3 separate regions of the Homo sapiens genome follow, and regions 1 and 3 are each reported to be linked to region 2. The links are microRNA targets in miRTarBase. Many come from high-throughput screens and were not tested one by one. Region 2 holds a microRNA gene; each other region holds the end of a gene's coding sequence.
The links. The annotated mature microRNA hsa-miR-581 reads UCUUGUGUUCUCUAGAUCAGU and lies in region 2 at 3,699-3,719, opposite strand. An mRNA with a match to its seed (bases 2 to 7 or 8) in the 3' UTR can be bound and repressed. Matches are read on the target gene's strand: a 7mer-m8 pairs with bases 2 to 8, a 7mer-A1 pairs with bases 2 to 7 and ends in A, and an 8mer does both.

Region 1: the mRNA of SATB1 is a reported target of hsa-miR-581. Seed matches in the 3' UTR shown: 7mer-m8 at 4,011-4,017.
Region 3: the mRNA of C1orf116 is a reported target of hsa-miR-581. Seed matches in the 3' UTR shown: 7mer-A1 at 6,290-6,296 and 7mer-m8 at 4,439-4,445.

Annotation. Positions count from the first base shown.
Region 1 is chr3:18,342,567-18,349,678 of GRCh38, forward strand. SATB1 (SATB homeobox 1) reads right to left here. Exons shown (of 11, transcript NM_002971.6): 11 at 2,811-7,112. The coding sequence ends at 6,604. Among named protein-coding and RNA genes, the nearest start is that of SATB1, 79 kb to the right of the region's middle. RefSeq lists an enhancer at 2,205-2,825.
Region 2 is chr5:53,947,866-53,954,989 of GRCh38, forward strand. It overlaps MIR581 (microRNA 581), which reads right to left and starts at 3,734; the gene lies at 3,639-3,734. The region is part of intron 4 of ARL15 (ARF like GTPase 15); the gene reads right to left.
Region 3 is chr1:207,015,475-207,022,586 of GRCh38, forward strand. It overlaps C1orf116 (chromosome 1 open reading frame 116), which reads right to left. Exons shown (of 4, transcript NM_023938.6): 4 at 3,048-7,112. The coding sequence ends at 6,484. Among named protein-coding and RNA genes, the nearest start is that of C1orf116, 14 kb to the right of the region's middle. RefSeq lists an enhancer at 4,073-5,272.

The sequences.
Region 1 (7,112 bases), not on the chromosome of region 2:
TAAATATGTAAAGTTTATGTTAATCATACATCAATAATTTTGGTAGTCCCCTCTAATAAATTGCGTTAAGATCTCATGATATTCGTGTGTGTGTCAAGCTTTCCTTTCAATTTGTGTTATTTTCTATTCGTTTGCATTCATTTTGTTGTATTTTTTTCTTTTCGATTCTATTGCATTGTAGTATATATGAAAGTCTTAGCAAATTCTTTTTGTAATAAGATGTATAACAATGTTATATTTCAACAGGACCATGAGATGTGATATTTTAAAGGCCAACAAATGCCTCTTTGCATGTCAGTTTAGAATGCCTCACTAAGAGGACTGTCCATAGGATGTAGTTCTCATTCCCATACAATCTGTTCAATGGTTTTTCTAATTTGTCTAATTTCATTCATTCATTCATTCATTCACTGAACATATTTCTGTGGCAGGATTTGAATGATATAAGTACATGATATTGAATTTACTTGATCTTATGTGGTTGATTATAACTGTAGTTTAAGCATTACATGAAAAATTTTAGACACTAAATAGCAAGTCCTACTGATGTTAGATGCAGTTTCATTTCTGTAACATTATTTTCTTCTTAGATGCTTGGTAGAATAATTTACTTTCAGAATCATCCTGACACATTCTGACATTTAAGTAGTTTGATTTTACATGATATATTATCCTTTAAAAAAATAGGACAAATGCCAAATGCCTGTATCAACTTCAGTGTTTACAGCACAGAATTATTAATTAAATTTAGTTCTTCATTTGAAAAATAAGTTTGCTGGACTCTGCCAGTTGGAGTGTGGATTAATTTAATGTAGTTTGAAATATAGGAATTACCAAATCCAGTTAAGTTTTTATTATGCTATTTCTATGTCTTGAGGCATACACCCCTGTTTAGAGATTTTTTTTCTCTCCAGGCTAAGATTTCTGTTCTTTTTTATTTAGCCTTCTTGGGCATGTTGCAAATATTCTACCTAGTTATGTTTTCCAGGTCTATTGTAGTAGAGCCAATTCTTCATTTTCTCTGCTTCTCACCTGTTTTTGTCTATTTATTTGTGTATAAGATGTCAAAGGAAAATGAAAAGTAACACCTCAAAATACCACCTTGAAAAGGAAAATGCCAACAAATTCTTTTCTGCACCTGAAGCTTTTAATTCTTTAATCCACCATGGAATGTTGCTTAATTACATATTTTATTATGCATAACTGAAAATTATGTACTTTAGTTTCAACAATGATATGAAAGCATGTATTGTTTATAAATAGAGACTGGTTTGTCTCTTTTTTTATATTACAAATATTTGTGGAATTCTCACATGTTCTCCTTCTAAAACTTGGCTTTTTGAAAATGCTCAGAGAGCTCTGAGAAAAACTTCAAATTTTAATGTTTTCTCTAGAAATCAGAAAATTCATTTCTTAAAAAAAAAGATGATGTCATAACGACATTATGGGTAAAAACCATTGAACAGTTTAAAGATTTTTGTAGAAGTTTTATCTTCGTTAGTTTCATGAAGTATTTATTGATGAAAAAATGTTACAATTGTTGAATTAGGTGATAAATTCATGGGAGTTCCTTGTCTCTACTTTTGTGTGTGTGTTTGAAATTTTCCACAATAAAATTTGTTTTTTAAAAGACATTTAGTGTGTATAGGTCTTTGGAGGTCACTATTTCATGAGGAAATATTCCATACACTTGATTTCAAGTAGTTAGTGATCAAAGTCTTCATATTAGCAAAATATGCATTACAACATATTTCTGAAAATTTTGAATTGCCATTAGGTTTTTGTGTGTGCATTTTTTTTTTTTTTTTTTTTTTTTTTGCATTTGAGAGAGTTTTTGTTAGGGAAAAGAGAGAGAAATGTGTAGACTTGAGTTTGAGACAAATGTGGCCACTTAACAGCTAAACAAATCAGTTAACCTATTTGAGTTTCCCTTCCGTTGTCTTTGAAGTGAGAATGTCAGTGCCTGCCTTAAATACCTCAAGGTGGAATGCAGAGGTTTAAACAAGATATGTTTGTGGCAGTGCCTAATAAAATGAAGCATTCTGCAAATATTTTTTCTATATTATTTAAAACATGTGTGAGGATGGTGCTAAGAAGGGGGCCTCAGAAGGAGAAAGCCTTTGTACTAGATCTAGTGAAACAAATGTTTGCAAATTCCCTTTGGAAACAAAGGTAGAATAGATGAAACCTGTCCCTAGATTAAGATGCCGTTCAACAGGTTTGTGCTCTGGACAAATGTTCATTTTGCATCACATTGCCACAGACTAACGAATAAACATATTTAAATATTTGAATATTCTTCTTCAACATTCTCATCTAACAGGTATTGTTGGTTCTCCTGTGAAAGGAAAATCAGAGTAGCACACGGGACATCATTGTGTCAGGTGGGGGTGGTGGTGTAAGGGCATGCATTAAAGTGTCATTGTAATGAAAATTTTGTATTTGAGTACCACAAAAAGCAAGTATTTCTGATTCAACTCACAGTAAATAACGTTCACCATTTACTTTGTTGCAAAATATGTCACTTCGGAGTTTCTTTGCAAGTGTTTACTTTGCATAACATACTGCTCTACTGCATTCGCTCATCAACCACTATCATAGAGAACAGGGCCCAAGTCAAGTGCTTTTGATCACAGTAAGTGTATTAGCAGCTGAAAATAATTGTTGGGAAACGGTAACCACACAACCTTGGTACGAGGCAAGAAGCTGTAATTGAGTTTTGGTAGTGTTCTTTTGATAGAATTAAATTTGGAGATATATGCTCTCTGTAAGTAGGGTAATGTAAGAAAGTCTTAAAAATGTGGCTCATCTTTTAAACATTAATTTCAAACTATTTTTATTTAACATTTGGTATTGTTAAACAGGTATAGTATTCAGGACATACACCTTCTACCACAATTTCTTTAATTAGGGTACTTTATATTTTATCAAAAATGTGCATATTAATAGATTGTAGTTTAGCCTTTGTCAAAAGACATGCAAGTATTTAGTATTTACATTAAAAGGATTGCCTCAGAAGAAACATTGAATTCATAAGCCCTCTTAAAAAGTCAAAAATATGCATAAAGAAGACTAGTATTGATATTTTCTGATATTTTAGATATGATTAATATTTTGGACCTCCATTGGTTTCCACACTATCATGCAAATTTCCAACTTGCTTTAACACAACAGTTCTATCAGCTGTATTAGAGGGAATACACATTTTAATTGCTCTTTTTGAAAATATCACCAGGCAGTTCAGAATGTCTCATTTATTGAGAATATTGTGACAATCAAAGACCTTAATATCAGCCAGATGCTAACAATTGGGAATAGGGCAGAATTTAATAATGGAATGTATGGGATTCTCATTTTTACTCAATCTTGAATCATCTGAGAATGTTTTCTATTCAAGCCAGTATTTTTAGATAAACACAGATATAGATATCGCTACTTTGAAAAAAATCACTTATTTTAAACTCAGAATTTCTTAGTACTAAATGCTAACCAATACACATTTTATACATAATATGTACAGACTTTGTTACCAAGCGCCACACAACTAGGACATACATATTAGTTACCTTGGTTTTCAAAGGTTGTCAACTCTGCATATTGTGTGGCAAGGAGATACTATCAACATTTTTTTTTGCATAATGTGCAAGTATTATATGGCCACAGAGTGTAATACAAATTAGTGGCAAAGTGCTGAGTGAAGGGAATCCATGACAGATTCAGATGCACAAGGTTGAATATTACCCGTAAACTACCTGACTCTGCTAAGGTCTTAACAGCACAAAACGCTATGTCATGCCCAGCTTTTAAAAGTCTCTGAAATACTTGGACACAATGAAGCTTGTTAAAGGAATTTTACCATAGCCACAGGTAACAAGAGGAGGATTGGCATGAGCGATAAATGACATTGGGGGAGCAATATGGAAGATCATCTGGGCAAGTCTTTTCTAAAATGTGCCATCTTCCCTGAAAACAATTTTGCTCACTCCATCCTATCAGTTTATTAACATGTGCTTGTGTGTGTGTGTGTGTGTGTGTGTGTGTATGTGTGGGCATTTAAAATATCAAATTATCAAAACCACGCTGACTTTTAAAAGTTAAAAAATCTAAGTGGGAATTTTGTTAGCATTGTTATGTTGATTACCAAACAAACATTCAAACATTCATCATTTCACTGAAAACACTATTTCAAAATAATTTAGGTTATTAGGAATTGGAAAGTTATTTGCAACCCAAACTTAGGGGATATAAGGAAGAGGAAGATAACTTCATGGCATTTGAGTTTCTATTTTATTTCCTATTTTTTAAATACATGAAACCTAGTTTCTATTTTCTTAATTCAAATTCCTTTGGCTCAAATTATTACTTTTCTGAACTCTAGTGAGCCAGAATGTTTGTTTTCTTACTAAATAAAAAGTGGCAACTTTTCAGTACAATTTTAAGTTTGCAACAAACCAGCTGCCTTCAGAGGAGCTTAGCTGTGCTTCAAAAGTAAATGGAACTTTAAAGCTTTATTGAAAGTTTTCAATGATTCCACTTCAGTTTCTAAAGTACAAGTTCAACACTAAAGCAGCCCAGTTGCCTACCAATAAGCTCATCAGGGCCTGAGAAGATGGTAGGCAGAAAGAGAAGGGGCAATTGCAAAATGGTATCTCAAGCAACCCAGATACCCCTACTAGCATCTAGGAAACAAAGTGAGGGAGCAAATAAAAGAAAAATCACCCCAAACTGTAATGCTGGCCTCAATCCTGTGACCATTAGCACACCTCATTTTATATTCTGGCATTTTACTATGTTTAATGTTGCAAGAATTTTGAAGATTGTGTTTAAATACCAGGTGTGTTATTCCTATTTTCTTCATGTAGCTCTTATAGTTATGAGATACACTTACGAGCTCAGTTATTAACTTATTCCACTTATAACTTGTGAAAAAAAAAAGCTAAGGGGTTTTTATACAGAAGGTCCATTTTTTCCCCTACTTATTTTGTTACTATTAATGGCCTTTAGAAATATTTATACATTAGCTTAAGGAAAAGCATTGCTATAAATGAAGTATTGTGAAATAAGCACAGATGAATCCATTCTAACAACATAACTGCTAGAGACTGGATTTGTTTTTGTCGGAGAGTCTTTTGACCATCCTATCTCTACTTATTAAGCAAAATGTTAACCAAACAGGTTATTTTCATTGTGAAATTTCATACCTATTTAAAAATGAGCATGTGTTTGTGATTTAAATTTACAGTGTTTCAAGTAACTTGTCAATTGCTCTTTTTAAAATCAGTGAAATAACAAGTTATTAACATGCACCTAAATGAGAGGGCCATCCTTTGACTCCTTTAGTTACTTCACATAAGCAGACAAACCCTACCATGTCATACGATACAAACAATTTTAATTGTGTAGTTACAGTCAATAACCACTCCTAGTCAGAACATTTCTGCATAAAGAAAATTGTGATACACTTATAAAAACAGCCAGCTGTAACAAAATAGCTGTTTTCATAGCCATAAACTCATAAAAAAGAAATACACCTTTATACAGAAATTTTATACAGATGTAGCTTTAAAATTGATTGTAAACCAAAGGAAGACACATTGCAAACATCAATTATTTTCACATTAATTGCATAATTTTCTAAGGTGATCTATTAGTTTTATTTACCTAAGCTTATTTGCATGATAGTAAAAATTGCATACAACAATAAGAGTGAAGCTTATAGTATGAATTGCTTGGATAACATAGAGCACTTTTTATAGGCAACTGTGTAAAGCACATTTTCTCTATTTAAAACTTTTAAGACACTTTGTTTTACTGCCCATCAAAATACATTTATAAATAGAAAAGAATCAGTATGGTAACAAGAGAAGCAATATTACATTTAACGGAAACTTCCAAAAAATTAATTACAACATGATGCTGCAGGATCTACAAATAAATAATGAGGACTAAATTGTGTTTCACATTTTCTTTTCCTTTTTTTAAAAAATCATGTAACAATGAGAATGAAAAAAAAGTACAGTGAACTTTTATTTCCAAAATAAAAACAAATTTGAATTACGGCAGTGCCATATAATACAAGGCATTTGTTGGCATATGTCATCTTTAAACTGCATTCCACAGTCTATAGTTCTTTTGTAACATACAATAGAGTAACAAACTCTTTTTTTTCTTTTTTTTTTTTAAATAAGGGGCAAGTTTCCAAAGATCAGTGTGGAGTGCTACAGAAATAATTATAGGAGAGGAAATCATAATCACAGAAGGTATAATGCTTGTTTGAGGCTCCGGAATAAGAACTAAAAAAAAAACAAAAAACACTGGTTTCATGCTTACGGGGTACACACTTTGGTGCATCCCGTGAACACAAATTTTAATACCAAACAATCCTTGATGCTTCACCTGGGGCTGCCAAGCAGTTTGTAAAACAGAGGAAAACATTTAGTGCAGTCTGTATTATCCTTTTCCAACTTTTCTGTTTGTGCAAGTTTTTGAAGATTCATTGGCCAAACAATGAACAACAAAGGTTTTCTGAGAGAAGACAAGGTGGACTTTTCATTTTGTTAGTAAATACCAGTGGCACTGTTGAACGAAACAAATACTTTTATCTCAGTCTTTCAAATCAGTATTAATGTCTGTGTTTCCTTCCACTGACAGCTCTTCTTCTAGTTTCACTGAAAAAAGGGTGTTAGTATTTTTATCTTGGACACTCTCTTCCAAATCCTTCAGCAGCTCCTCTTCTTTATATTCTGCCACATCGACCTCTAAACCGGAATTGTCCTTCAGTTTGCCGTGGTGCTTGAGATAGTACCGCTGGTTCTGAAAGAACTTGATGATGGTGTACTTGGGAAGGTCGAGCTGGGCAGACAGAGTCTGGATGGCCTCTTCGTCAGGGTACAGGCCCACGTCTTGTATGAAACTCTGGAGGATTCCCAAGGCTTCCACTGAAATTTTTGTTCGTGGCCGGGTCTTCTGTCGGTTTTCCTCATCTGACTCTGCTGGAGAGGCCACCGTGGGTTGCCGTGGGGGGAGCCGAGGGCCTGTCTGTGGCTGCTGCTGTGGCTGTGGAGGCGGCGGTGCCTGCTGCTGCTGCTGCTGCTGTTGCTGTTGCTGCTGCT
Region 2 (7,124 bases):
AAAGGGGGAGGGCTGGGAAGGAAGCAAGAATCTAGTTTAGAAGAAAACAGCCCTCTCCACCTTCCTCCAAAAATCTCCGTGAGTGCATTACACTACAAGATTAAAGAAAATAGAAATTAAATGAGACACCAGTGGAAAAAAATGAGATAAAAAGGGAGGTTGCAGAAGGAAACAATAAATTAAACAATAACACTGTAGAACTAATAAACAAATTAGAAAGAAAAGAAATAGAATAGGCACAGGTAAAAAATAGTGACATAGCAAAAACCCTTGGAAACTTGAGATAATGACAGTGAATACGTAAGATGATGATATACAAATTAAGGCAATTTGGGAACAGAGGACAGATAATGACAAACAAATGTAAGTGTCCAAAATAAAGTTGGAACTACTGTAGTAGGTTCCTTAACAAATATTAGTAAACTTTACCCCACCTAACTCCTATCATCATGTATGTAAAAACAGTGTTTTATGGTTCTTTTGGTCTTCTATATGACTACCTACAGAAGCAAACAATAAAAATGAACTGATAGGTCTTGTAAAATTTGCCCTGATGTCTATTTTGAAGTGTTATAAATTCGGTATTTGCGTAACAGTGGTTCTCCTGGAGAAAATCATTAGAAATTTGATCCTACACCCTATTCTTATTCACTGAACAGAAAAGAGAAATCTGGAAGCAATCTGGTAATATAAAACTATTAGTTTATGCTGTTGGAGCCTTTATCTAACAAATTTCCAAAACAACTACAGTCGTTAAAATAGTGAAATTATTATTTCCAAGTGGACATATATTTTTATTAAAAGAACAATTAAGACAGTTTATTTGATATATTTTAACACTTTTCATTAACCAGGGGTCATACACTTGCTAAAATACTTTTCTGGAAGCACAGGTAATATTCAGAACAAGAGTCACAATTGTGCCCACTCAGCATTCCTTCACATTGATCAGAACTCACTTCACTGAGAAGTACTGCACTAAAGGATTTAATGAGACATGCTACTGAAACATAAATGTACATAGCCCGGAGCTGAAGGATTTTATAATAACAAACTCATACACACACAGAACCGCAAATCATTACCTTCACTGCCATTCTGAAGAGAGCTGGCACTTTAGTCGTAAAGTTTTTCCTTAAGTTTAGAAGTGTCCCTGATTGCAAATAATATTCAACAAAAAATTTATAATCTTAAAAAAGATACTGCTAAATAAAATAAAAGCTACATACTGCCTGCCACATGGAAGGTGCTTGATAAACATCAGTTAGATAAATAAGCCTCAAGACTCACAAGACAATACAATGATTTAATTCCCATTGGATATGGTATTGTGGAGGACTCTAAATTTCTGAGTCAGCACCCTTCATTTCATGTTGTTTATAGACTAGCTTTGTAACCAGTATTCTACTCAATAGCTAGAGTATTCACAAATACACTAAAATAATGAAGAATAAGCCACTGTGTAATTAAATATGAATAATGAAGACAGCACTTATAACAGTTTGACTTCTATTTCAAGTGAAAAACAGGAAGTTGCCTAAAAAGTTGCTGTGTTTAAAAATGGGTCTTTTTATGGATTTATAATACAATCAAGGGACCAACTTTTGCAGTTTGTTCTCAAATATTAGGAGATGTAGTTTCTTCATCATTTGAAATGATGACATGGAAGACAGCATGCATAAGATCAAACACCTTTTACTCAAAATACAGAATTAATGGGCTTGCTCATATTCCAAGGATGTGTCTTCTTAAACACTGGTTTGTTTCATAGTTCTAAGTTTTTTGGAGGGCCTGACTTAATCCAAAAATACTGTGGCATGCCTACAAGAGTTAACCTCTTATATTTTGAAGTAGAACAAAAAGGGAACATATATTCTGACAGGAGATTCTATCATAATCGCTCAGAACACTGAACTTTTTCAACTTGATGAAAGGTTTCTCCAAGTTAGAAATACTATAAGTAACTCTTTCCAAAAGACTGCTCGTATGTGAAGAGTGAAAAAACAAACTAAACAAAAGCAAAAACTTAGGACTAAAGACTAACAAATGCATATGAAGAAGGAAAGTGCCTTTGCTCAAGGTCATTGTGCTAACAGAATGACTTGCTTAGTTCACGTGCAGATATTTGTTGGCAAATGTTAAGCGATGCAGAAAAAAAGGCACTACATAAATGTGAAAAACAAATAAGTAAAACCATAAACATGAATGTTGTAATTTGATGATTATGTGCAAGATCAATCAAGTAGTGAAAGTATGTAGTATTCAAGTGTTTAAAGTGGCGGCCTGGGCATGGTGGCTCATGCCTGTAATCCCAGCACTCTGAGAGGCTGAGGTGAGAGAAATGCTTGAGGCCAGGAGTTCAGGACCAGCCAGGGCAACACAGTAAAACCTCGTTTCTACAAAAATTAAAAAAAAAAAAACGACTATGCTCAAGGTAGTGAGGAACCACTTCTACTAAGCCAGATGGAAATTGCTAAGAACAGAAAGACGACGATGTCATGACGGCTGGTTAACTATGGGAGCAGCTGGGGTTTGAATTTCTGTTAACAGTAGGAGAAAATAAGGACTGGAGACAGAGGGGGAATCTGAGAAATTCTCTATTTTGGTGGCTAAGCTAACACAATCTACTCACAGCTTTTTTTCATTTGATTACCATTTGAAACAGATTACTTCTCCATTTGAGGGTAATCGTGAAGCAAGATTTCAACTCATGCTCTATCACTACCCATTCCAGGCCACAAATTAAAATAGCCTATTACTACTTTTATACACACAATAAAGAGATCTTCCATCCCAATCTTCTCCATGCTTTTTTTTTTCTCAGCAAAGTTCATGTAAACCAGTAGGTCATAGTAAATCCTAAAATGTATTCCCACAGTGAGATACTTGGAACATTTTCCTTCTGGATTTTATTAAACATAATGTTCTAAGCATTATGAGTGCTCTAAGGTATTTCTTGAATAATAACCCAAACTGCAGAGTGAAAGTAAGTGGCAATTAAAATCCCGAGACAGACGGGAACACTGAGACTAAGAAATAACAGCATCTGTTCCTGACGATGGCTGGACTGCTGATCTAGCTTGGGGTCAGCAAACTTGGCCTGAGGGCCAAATCCAGCCCACTCCCTGTTTTCATATGGCCTGCAAGAGCCAAGAATGGTTTTCACAGTTTTAAATGGTTGGGGGAAAAAAATCAAAACAATATTAGCATATTAAGAACATAAAAATTAGATGAAATACAAATTTCAATGTCCATAAAGTTTCACTGAAACACAGCAAGATTCATTTGTTTATATATTGTCTATTGCAGCTGGGTATGGGAGAGCTGAGTAGCAGGGACTTTGAGTATGGCCTACAAAGCCTATATTTACAATCTGACCCTTTAGAGAAAAGGTTTGCAGACCATGAGCTTGATCAGAACTTCAAATACCATCTGTGGTGAAGGAGCTGGTTTGTTTTGAGTATTTGTTTTCTAACCCATCATAGATCTGAGCTAAGCTTTTGTAGAATACAAAAATCATATACTTTGGATGTTGCAGAGATGTCAGATTGCTATAAATTTCCTAAATGTTTACTCTCAATTTCTGTATTTATCTTCTTGCATACTCAAACAGATATTTTGTGGACTGGCACCAGTCTGCAGGTGGTTCTGTGTAGGTATTCTTTGTGTTCTTTAGATCACACAAATTTTCTAAAAGCACTGATCTAGAGAACACAAGAATACCTTCACATAACTTTTTGGAAAACCTTACTTACTCCTTCCCTATATACTCCTTCCCTATATATTTTCGATATGATGACCACTAAAAATATCAGTAAATAAATATATTGCTTTGTAAATATATTAACTAGATAAAATTATAGTTTTTCCATGAATCTTTTTCAAGCATTATGCTTTATGCTTTAAAATTATAACCAGTTTCTTCCTTACCAGCTACCACATTATATATTTTTACTGTTCTCTTAGACTTTACATAAAAGAATTTTTTTTTTTTTTTTTTTTTTTTTTACATTTTGTGCTTTGGGGAATAACTCAAATTCCATAAACAAAACTATTAGTACAAATGTTTTCTGGACAATCTGTGCTGTGATTTTGGAAATTGTGTGTGAAAGAGGAGAGTAGCTGGGCGTGGTGGCTCGCGCCTGTAATCCCAGCACTTTGGGAGGCCGAGGAGGGTGGATCATGAGGTCAGTTCAAGACCAGCCTGGCCAAGATGGTGAAACCCTGTCTCTACTAAAAATAAAAAAAATAGCCAGGCATGGTGGTGGGTGCCTGTAATCCCAGCTACTCGGGAGGCTAAGGCAGAGAATTGCTTGAACCCGGGAGGCAGAGGTTGGAGTGAGTTGAGATCACGCCACTGCACTTCAGCCTGGGCAACAGAGTGAGACTCTGTCTCAAAAATAAAAACAAACAAACAAAAAAGAAGAGAGTGAAAGAATTTGAGTCCTTGCACAGACAATAACTGTTTTTTATGTTTAAACTTTTTAGTTTCTTATGTTAAACTTTTTATGTTTAAACTTTCAAAAGGTTGAATAAATTTCATCTTATGCTTGCATTATAATAGCAAAGTTCCTTGATATGTCAAAGGCCACAAAAGTAATTTTTAGCTTAGGTACAAAACGTGCCTTGGGCCTGTTTTATATGATACTCCTTGGTTTTAGCACTACATTAAAAAAAATGAATGTGAAAAAAATCATTTCCATGAAAGTTTTTTAATTGGCTCAAAGTTAGTAGCAATTTACTTTCAAATTTCAATCTTTATCTCTCTAGGGAAATACTTAATTCTACTGCAATTTTTATTTAAGAAATGAAATAATTTCTAAACATTTTTAAACTTTAAGAAAGATGAAACTCTGTTATTGTGCCAATGACTTTTTATTATTAGGTGTCAGATGATAAAACATTCAAATAAGAAACAGCACTGGGATTTCACAGTGTCAGGAGAAAGGAAAGTCTATAAAAAGAAACTCAAGGTGTGTTTAAGTATGTGAAAAGAGCAGATAATCCCTAAACCTGTTTTATTTGAAGGCAAATAGGAAGATGCTTGCTTTATTTGTTGTTACAGAAGAATGTTGTTGCTAGCAAAGGATAAAATCTCAAAGCAGAGGGAGAGGGAATATAAAATGGCTGTAGATTAAACTTCTGCAAATGTTCACTTTACTACGCAGCTCCACTGTCATAAAACAGTCAAAATAGTAAGATATACTCATTCAGAACAATGACACAATGTTTATAAATATTTATATGTATGCTGAACTAGACCATTACTAAAAGCTGCAGCTGGGGTATAGAAAGAAAACTAGGATTTGATTGGAGGCCTTATTTTGCAAATTACTAGGCTCCATGATCTTGTGGAACTTACTTAACCTTTCTGAGTCTCAGTTTCTTATCCATAAAATAAATGAGATTCTACCTACCTCTGAAGAATTGAGGAGGATAATATACGTGTCTTGTATAAAGCACTATGCAAATGTGAGGGGTTATTGTTATTTAGTAGGGAGCTCAGAGAATCTTAATATGTATTATATTTAAATTTTCTATAAATAAGTGAACTTTTTATACAGCAAAGTAGATTGAGTTGTTTGTATATGCCCTTTCCTAATATCACTATTTCTTGAAGCAGAGAATATATTGAGGTAAATCCTCATTAGAAAATTTATTACGCAAAATTTAACCAACTGTAGTTGTGATCAGTGCTACTGATGGTCAGTGTGCTATGGGTGTGAAGCAGGAAGACCTTTTCATATGAAGAGGGTGGAGGGCAAAGGTGGTAGGGATGGGTAGAGGCAGGGGCAGGTGCAGTGGGAAATACATTTTGTAATGCCGACGCCTGAAGGAAGAGGAGGTGTCAGCCAAAGGAATGTGAGAACAAACATTTTCTATATTTAATGAGACAATCATAATTAATACGGATATATCAAAAGTTCTCTGATCCATCATAATATCTATTTGTTGATTCAAAAGTGACAAGCAATAATTATTATGTAGGAGCCTTACGCTTTAATGAATTATCTATGATCACTTAAAAACACTAGGTTTTCCATTTCAGACTAAGTAGTGAGATGGTAATAGATTTTTGTTAACCTTATACAGATGTACATTAAACATATGGTATAAGAATAGCATTCTATTTTCAAAACCTGAGATTATTGATTTTCAGATCTTTAGTTGAATATGTATCGGTACAAAGACTTCTCTGTTCCATACAAGCTATTTCTCATCTTCTACTTAAAAAAAAAAAAAAAAAAATCACCAAAGACAGGGGAGCTTTCTTGCATTCCTCTAAGTGGTAGAATTATCCTAATGTTTGGGAAATCAGTCCTGGCATCCTTTAGTCTGGATAAAACATTTGAAGAAGCATGGTATGACATACAGGCAAGGAAGACCCAGCTACTTCAGTAAGGTTGCTGTATATATCCTCTCCATCCATCATCTGCAAATACCTTCCTCTGTCTTGGGATCCAAGCCCTCTGCCAAGGTGTAGAACTTGTATACTGATTTCTCATTATTTGGAGGTGATTAAGCTAATCAGTTAATACAACAAAAGGAGAAAAATAAGGTAATTACTTTCTAAGAATATTTCCATGTTCCATAGCCCAATTCCTCACTGGATCACCTGTCCACTCCTTGAACATCATGTCCCTGCGTTTCCCACTTCCCAGCCATTTCATGTCTGCCACAGAACAGTTTCCTTTCACACCAAATGCTTGATAACCTGAAAAGTGAGTAGAAACTCATATTCAACTTTAAGAACTCATGTAAACAGGTTAGGTTATTGAGAATCCACACAGTGTTAGGCCTCTAGATCAAATATTTTACATAAATAGACTCATTTAATACTCAAAACGGTCAGTAAAATTAGGCATCATTATCCAAAGTTTGCTTCCAACATACTGCTAACTAGGACCACACTGCCTCTTTGCATAGGAAAGAACATATTCCTTTTAAAAACACTGTTCTTAAAGTGGAAACTATTTTATGGAAAGAGCATCGATCTAATTTCTGACCTCCACTCCAGTGTTTCCACATTGCACCAGCTCTTCGGTAACATATGTGCCATACTCCAACATCACTTTCTGGAATCTGCCTAAGAAATAGTTCTTTGGGTGAAAGTCTCTATACTT
Region 3 (7,112 bases), not on the chromosome of region 2:
TGTAAAGATGAGGAGCGGAGAACTCCAGCAGAAGGAACAGCCAAGGTAGAGTCTCAGAGCTGGGACCAGCTTGATGCTTTTAATAAGAGAACATGAAGACAGATCCTTCAGGAGCCCCTGCCTAAAGGACGGGGGCAGGAGAGTCACTCAAAGAGGAGATGACAAATATTTCCTCAGATCCAAGCAACTGAACAGAGCCAGGAACTAATCCAAAGGAGGCCTTCACAGAGTCCTGCCTACCCACTAAAGCAGAGTGTGGCAGGGTTGGTGTGAGCTGGAGGAGGTGTTGATGTTGCAAGTCAACTTGTGCTGTAGCCTCAGTCCTACTTTCAGGCATGAAGGCCCAGGAGGTAGAGAGCGCTGTACTCTCAACATGTCCAAACACAGACCCATGCAGGGGACCCCCAGATCTGAGCCTCTCGCCATGGTCTATGTCTCAGTGAGTGGTATTAGTATCCATCCAATCACGAAGGAATGAAACCAAAACATGACTCATGACCTCACCCTCTTCCTCACCCTCAGTAATAGGTCCACCAAATCATGTCAGTGATGAACATCTTCAAACCTTCTTTCTTTTCTTCTTTCTGCCACCACCACAGCTGCACAGTGCCACACTGCCTCCCTCCCAGACTACAGCAGTAGCTTTCTAACTGTTCCCTTCACACCCATCCCAGCCTGTCTCAGTCCCCTCCCAACCCAGCCACCAGAATGATCTTTCCATCTGTAGAGATGTACAGAGTTTGGCGCAGCAACTCTCTTCACGTAAGAGGAATTTTTTGAAAAGTCTCTGGGGGTTGACGCTTAGATCCTAAGAGCCCTCAAGTGTCGGGTGGAGGTGAGAAGGATTTGCTGGTTGTGCTATAAGTTGGAAAAGAAAAAGAAAGGGTGGAAGGGGAGGTGATGTGAGGCCATGTGGTTGTGATAGGTCCCCCAGCATCCCCCACACTGACCTTCAGTAAAAAACTCAGAAAATAACAAAATGCTTAACGAAACCTGATTTCCCATGGGAATCAGTGAAAGGCCTGGGCTTTGGGTCTAGACCAATAGTGAGCGGAGACAGAGACAGTGGCTTAGGGATGGCAGAGTGTGGATTGGGAAGGAGGCAGGTGTGGGGAGGCTCCGAAGCAGCACACACAGATGCAGATAGGACAGAACTGTAGGAGGCTCTTAAAACTGGAGGAGGGCTTTGACTGTTTCAGTTCTGAGGAATCTAGGTGCAGGCCAAGATTAACCAGTCCTGATGGGGGTCCCAGTTGGCATCTGAATTACACGTCTATATGATAATAATATGAATAGACACCATTTATTCAGCAGTGTGCTATGGTTTTTTTTATATGTAGTATCTCATTTGATTCTATTTTCATAAAAACTGCAAGGGGTAAGTATTATTATTGCCTTACTTTACGAGGTTCCATCCTGTTATAATCTAAGTTCGTTTTCTCTCCATTTTTAAGATAAACAATAACTGTAGGGCGGCATAAAGTTCCCTGAACCACACAACAAAGAAAGTTAAAAGATGCAAAAGGTAATCACCGAAAAGGAAACTGAAGTGCAGAGACCCTGGCAGCCTGGCTCCTGAGCCTATGCTCTTGGCCACTGTATGTTCTCAATCTCTCTTCCCTCCCCTCCTCTTCCCTCCTTTCTTATCTTCTTCCATCTATCCACTCATCCATCCATCCATCCATCAAGCCTCCATCCATCTATCCAACTATATTTCTGACCATATCTCTCTCTATATATACATAGTTGGAGGTAGATATAGATATAGATATAGATATAGATATAGATATAGATATAGCTATCTAAGTTGACATGCCAGAGGCCATGTCAGCTTAGAAGTCCCACAGCAACCTCAAACTCAGTATGCCCCAAACCGAACCTCCCGTCTTCCTGGTCCTACATGTATATATATATACATATATATATATGTGTGTGTGTTTATTTCTGACCATAGATATAGATAGGTAGATAGAAAGAAAGGAAGAAACATATGTATCTCCAACTATAGAGATAATTCCTCTTTAGGTGGGAGGTTGAATTACAGAACCTAAAAGTTTCCTTTCCGTTCTCAAGTTCTCTGAGGTTTAGTTTATTTTAGACTATATTTTGATTATTTTTGGCAGGTGTTTATCTTCCTAACTTGTTTGGATTTACCGAAACATACATTTCAGGGCTAGCATGGATCTAGGAGAAAGACCAAGTCCCTCATGTTGAGAGTGAGAAGAAGTGACCCACTAAATCTCACCTGGTCCAGGCCTCTGCCTGTTTCACATTATTTTGAATTCTGGATACGTGGCAAGTGGTGATAAGGACAACAATCCAACTAGGTAATGAGTAAGAGAGAGTGACAGCCTGGAATTAGAGTGTAATCTGTTTTTACCACATGTGTATGCTAACAGTCAGTGATGATTGTGACAGTGGTCATGACTCCAGCAATTCACAGGTCCCTACACCTGAAGAGATTTAGAGACCTCATCCAATGTACTTCTTGCCTCCTGATAACTAATGCCTGATTCATTCCAGAGATGAACAAATTTAAAAGAACGTGCTATTTAAAATAAAAAAAAGGAATTTTAAAACCTTTTCTAGCTTTTATTTCTTTCTGAGGAGTTCCCTCCTGTTATATGCTTATTTTTTTTACCTTCATTTTAAAAATAAATAACTGTAGAACAGCATATAGTTCTCTGAACCACACAGCAAAAGAAAGTAAAAGGAAGCAAAAAGAAGCTTGCTCTATGGTCATGGGCAGTAAGAGACTGATGATACAGGAGAAGTTGGATTTGAGGATATGAAAGCTGGAAACAGCTGGTTCAGGCTGCACCGGAACACACACATTACACCCATGCCAATTGCTGTCTTTTCAAACTCCAGGAAGCCTGGCATGGGTGAAGCTGAGTCACGTGGAGGCTGTGCCGAAGCCTGGTTGTGCCGTAAGTTTTGTGTGCAGCAGGCTCTATCTTTCTCTCAGAAGTGAGTTGGGTGAGCCCTTGGTATCCAACCCTCCCTACAGTCACCTCCTTTGAGAAGAAAAAAATAAGACCCAGAAGGTAGTATTATCATTTATTGAGTAGCTACACTGTGGCCAGAACTAAGCTTTACATGTTTTATATCACTTATTTATCTCAACAATCTTGAAAGGGTGGTATTATTTTCCCCGTCTTATAGGTGAAGACTCTGAGGTTCAGAAAGTTAAAGTGATATCGCCAGGGTTCCTGACTGGTAAGTGATGGAGGCTGAATTTGAGCCAGATCTATATGCTCCATCATCACTCTCCTGGGGAAAAGAGCCTAGATGTGTTCTATCTGCATTCCTGCTTAGATTCTGCATGACTTCTCCTGTCCATCCCCTTGGCCCCCTCTCCTCTAGTCCATGAGATTACAGCTTTGCACACTGACAGGAGGGTCCTTCCTTCTTAGCCTACACATACAACCAGGTGTCAAAGGATGGAAGGGTTCATCTCACACACTCACAGACCATGTAGACTATTCAATCTACACCTCCAGCTCGAACTCAGAACATTGACAGGAACCTGCTCTTCAATCTTTCACCTCCCCTTTCTCCATGAAACGAACGTCAACATTCACACAGCAGCCCATCCCCAGCCTACAGGGCGGCCCCTGCCAGATCATGCTTCCCACTGTGGAAGAAGGCATGTACGAGTGAGTGGGCTCATCGGTTGACCTCTGTGTGAGATGGCACGTGGTCCTACCCTGCAGAGTCAGAGCACAGAATTCCAAGTGTAGCACAGGTGTGGCAATTCAGAAGAGCAGCTGTCAACACATCTGAGGGCACAGACCCCCCTATCATGCCAGGCTGGGAGAGGCCACTCCTGTATTTGGCAGGTGGCTTGTGCCCAGTGGCATCAAGGCTATGGCAGGGTATAGCAGAGATCTAAGGCCAAGTGGAAGTAGAGCTGTCGCTTTGATTTTGAAAATCAAATGAATGGCCTTTACAAACTTCCACCCACAATTCTTTGAAAAGGGATGAGTAACTCTGACCCTACTCTTACCTCCCTCCCCATCAATTCAAGCTGAATTAAGAGAAATCCTATGTGGATACACAGATACAATGACCTCAGCTCTGTCTAGCACCACTTTCAGGGAGGCGGATGTCCTCACTGGGCCCTCTTGCATCTCTTCAAAATGGGAATGACCAAGTTTGGATTTATTATTCTATTCTTGAATCCCAAAGACCATCCTAAGAGCAAAATATGCTCCTTGAAGGATGAGGATGTGGAGAAGCACGGTATCTTTAAAAAACAAGGGAAGGGAGTCTCAGATTAAGAAAACTGGAGAAATGGGCATGTCAGTAGGATGAGGATGCCTAGTGGCAGGTGCAGGATGTCTGTGACTTTGTCGTGTGTGGGAGAAATGACCTTTCTCAGGATGTGGGAATATAATAGGCTGTACTCCTGATGACCTTGACCATCCTAATCACACTTGTGTGATGCCAGGGCCCCAGGTTCCACCCAAGTTTTACTTTATAGCTATTCCCAAGTTTCCCTATTAATCAAGAAAATTAATGAATAAGGAATAAGGTGATCATTCTTCAGGTTATGGGTTGAAATAGACACAGAAATCAACTCAGCTGAATATAGCATGTGGAATCAGTCCTCCAGAAGGCAGCTTTCTCTCTTTCTGGGGGTGTATAATAAGACATAACTTGGCCGGTTGTGGGAGTCCTCATCAGCCGTGACAGACCAAGTCCTCACCCATGGCCAGGAATGAGGCACAGGCTTTTGGATGTGCGTGTATGAGCAAACGTACACAGAAACCGCCACACCCACACCTCACATACCATGACAGGGTGGAGTATTTGTTGTCCTTATGTTAACCTTGTCACCGTTTTCAGAAATTCTGGGCTTTGATGGTGCTGCGTCCATCAGGACACAGTCCAGAAATTCTCAGCAGCCTTAAAAGGCACCTTTCCAGCAACATTCCCTTCATCTGCCCCTCACATCTGGGCATCCTGGACTCCAAGCAGTTCACAACCATAAGTAAGATTTACTTCCTAAGGGGAAGCAGGAGTCATGTCTGGCCATGTCTCACCTCCAAGCTTGTATTTGCAAGCCCACACCACCCACCCATAATACCCTCTTTCGGCATTTGCTCAAGCTGCACAACTTGGTCACGGAATTTGAGGGGAGAGGTGTTCTGGTTAATGATGAGTTACCATATAGCTATCTTCCAAAGATAAAATTAAAAGCCACAGCAATAACTATTAGTTTGAACAATATTTAATCTCTGATGCTTCAGAAGGCACTTTGAGATCTTGAAGGGCCTTAGGGTTGAGTCTTTGATGGTGACTATGGCTCCTTAGGGTGCTGTGTGGATGTACAAGAGCACTGGCTAAGGAGAGGTGGCAGCATGCAACAAGGGTAAGAACCTCAGCTCTTTCCCTAAATGGCAGGCTGACCCGGGGTTAGTCACTTCCCTTCCCCAGCAGCACTGCGTCAGAGCTTCTCTGAGGCCCCTCTTACCTCTGATATTCTATTAAGACTGGCAGAGGATGTATTGTGTGGGTTTTCTATCACTGGAACTGAGAAAAATTTAAAACTACCTGCATCAGCACAGAGAAGATCTGAAACGGTTCTTGGGTGTTTATAAAGCCCGTGGGCTGGGCTCCCATCTTGATGTCAGCCCAGCCCTGGGGTCAGTGCAGACTGAGATACGGAGCAGGAAAGCAGGAAGAACGGGAGTAGCAGAGTCAGGGACGACAGCACAGTTGGTGATTGAATTTATCAAGCCTGTGGAGAAGGACTCTCCCTGGTGGAGGTAGTGGCATAAATATGTGGTCACTTATCCTGCCTTCTCAGACCAACAAGAGCTGTTCTGCTATCAATCAACCGAGAGATTGGGTTACAGGGACGTATCCTGTCTTTGGGACTGGTGATACTGAGAGGGCAGTGGGTGAAGAGATAACGAATCAGCTCCTCTTAGCCCAGGCCTTGTCCAGAAGGCTGGAACTGAGAGAGGGATCTGGCAAGGTATGAGCCAGTCTCCATCCACTGTAGGGATTCCAGGAGGCCCATATTTCATGTGACCCTGCATTTGCTGGATGTGACTTTTTTTCAAGTCATTGACACGTCCATTGTCTCATTTGACTTTTTGTCTCAGGCATGGCCAGCCCCTTCACTCAGCTCTCACTAGGCTGGACTCTACCCAATGTAAGAAAACATCTAACAAGAGCAAAATTCTGAACAGTGACTCATTGTGTTATATCAATAGCTTCAGTGATGTATCCAGCGGCCCCCCCTCCACACACACACCAAACACACACACACACACCCTCTTGTGGAGATCACCTTCAGAATGATCCACATGGGAACTCAATGGCACAACACTGAATATAAATGTATGCTTGGACTCAAATCTCTCCCTCCCATTCATCTTGAGCCCTGAGTTGCGTGGTGGCAAAGGCTCCCAAGTGGAGCATGTGTCTCTTCTTGTTCAGCCAGGACAGGGTCTGTACTGGTCGCAGAGTCTACTCCTTCAACAGTCCCAGCTTCTTCAGGGCCTCCCTTCTGTGTTCATTGGGGACACCCTTTGGGGAGATCTTGACACTGACACAGGGGGGGCGAGGAAGCTTGTCACGGCTCTGTCCTTGGTAGGACAGGCGCTTGGAGCTCTGCTCCTGCTCCAGGTCAGCCAGCTTGCCTACCTGGATACCTGCAAAATCTTTCCCCGTGCCCAGGGAGGCCGGGCGGGGCCGAGAATTACGTAAGACACTGGGCGAGATCTTGTCCAAGAAGGAGCCCTTTCCCAGAGAAGTGCTGGTTTTGGGGCTGGCATCTTTCTCAGTTGAAAGGTAGCTGCTCAGTCCCACGCCTGAGCGCTCCAGAGTGTTGGACTTGAAGTTCATCTGTCTCAGGCCAGGGGTGTTGCTCTCCTGGAGAGTCAGCCCTGACTCTGGCTTCGGTGGAGTCAGGGCACTGTTTGCCCTTGGGGCCTTAGGGATAGAAATTGGCATAGATTTGCTAGCTGCAACATTGCCTGGAGCTGGAGACTTCATTGGCAAAGGTCCCTGAGCTGGACCTGGAGCTGGAGCCGGAGCTTGAGCCAGAGCCTTCCCAGCAGCAGGAATAGCTGCTGAGGCCTGGGCTGGAGCTGCAG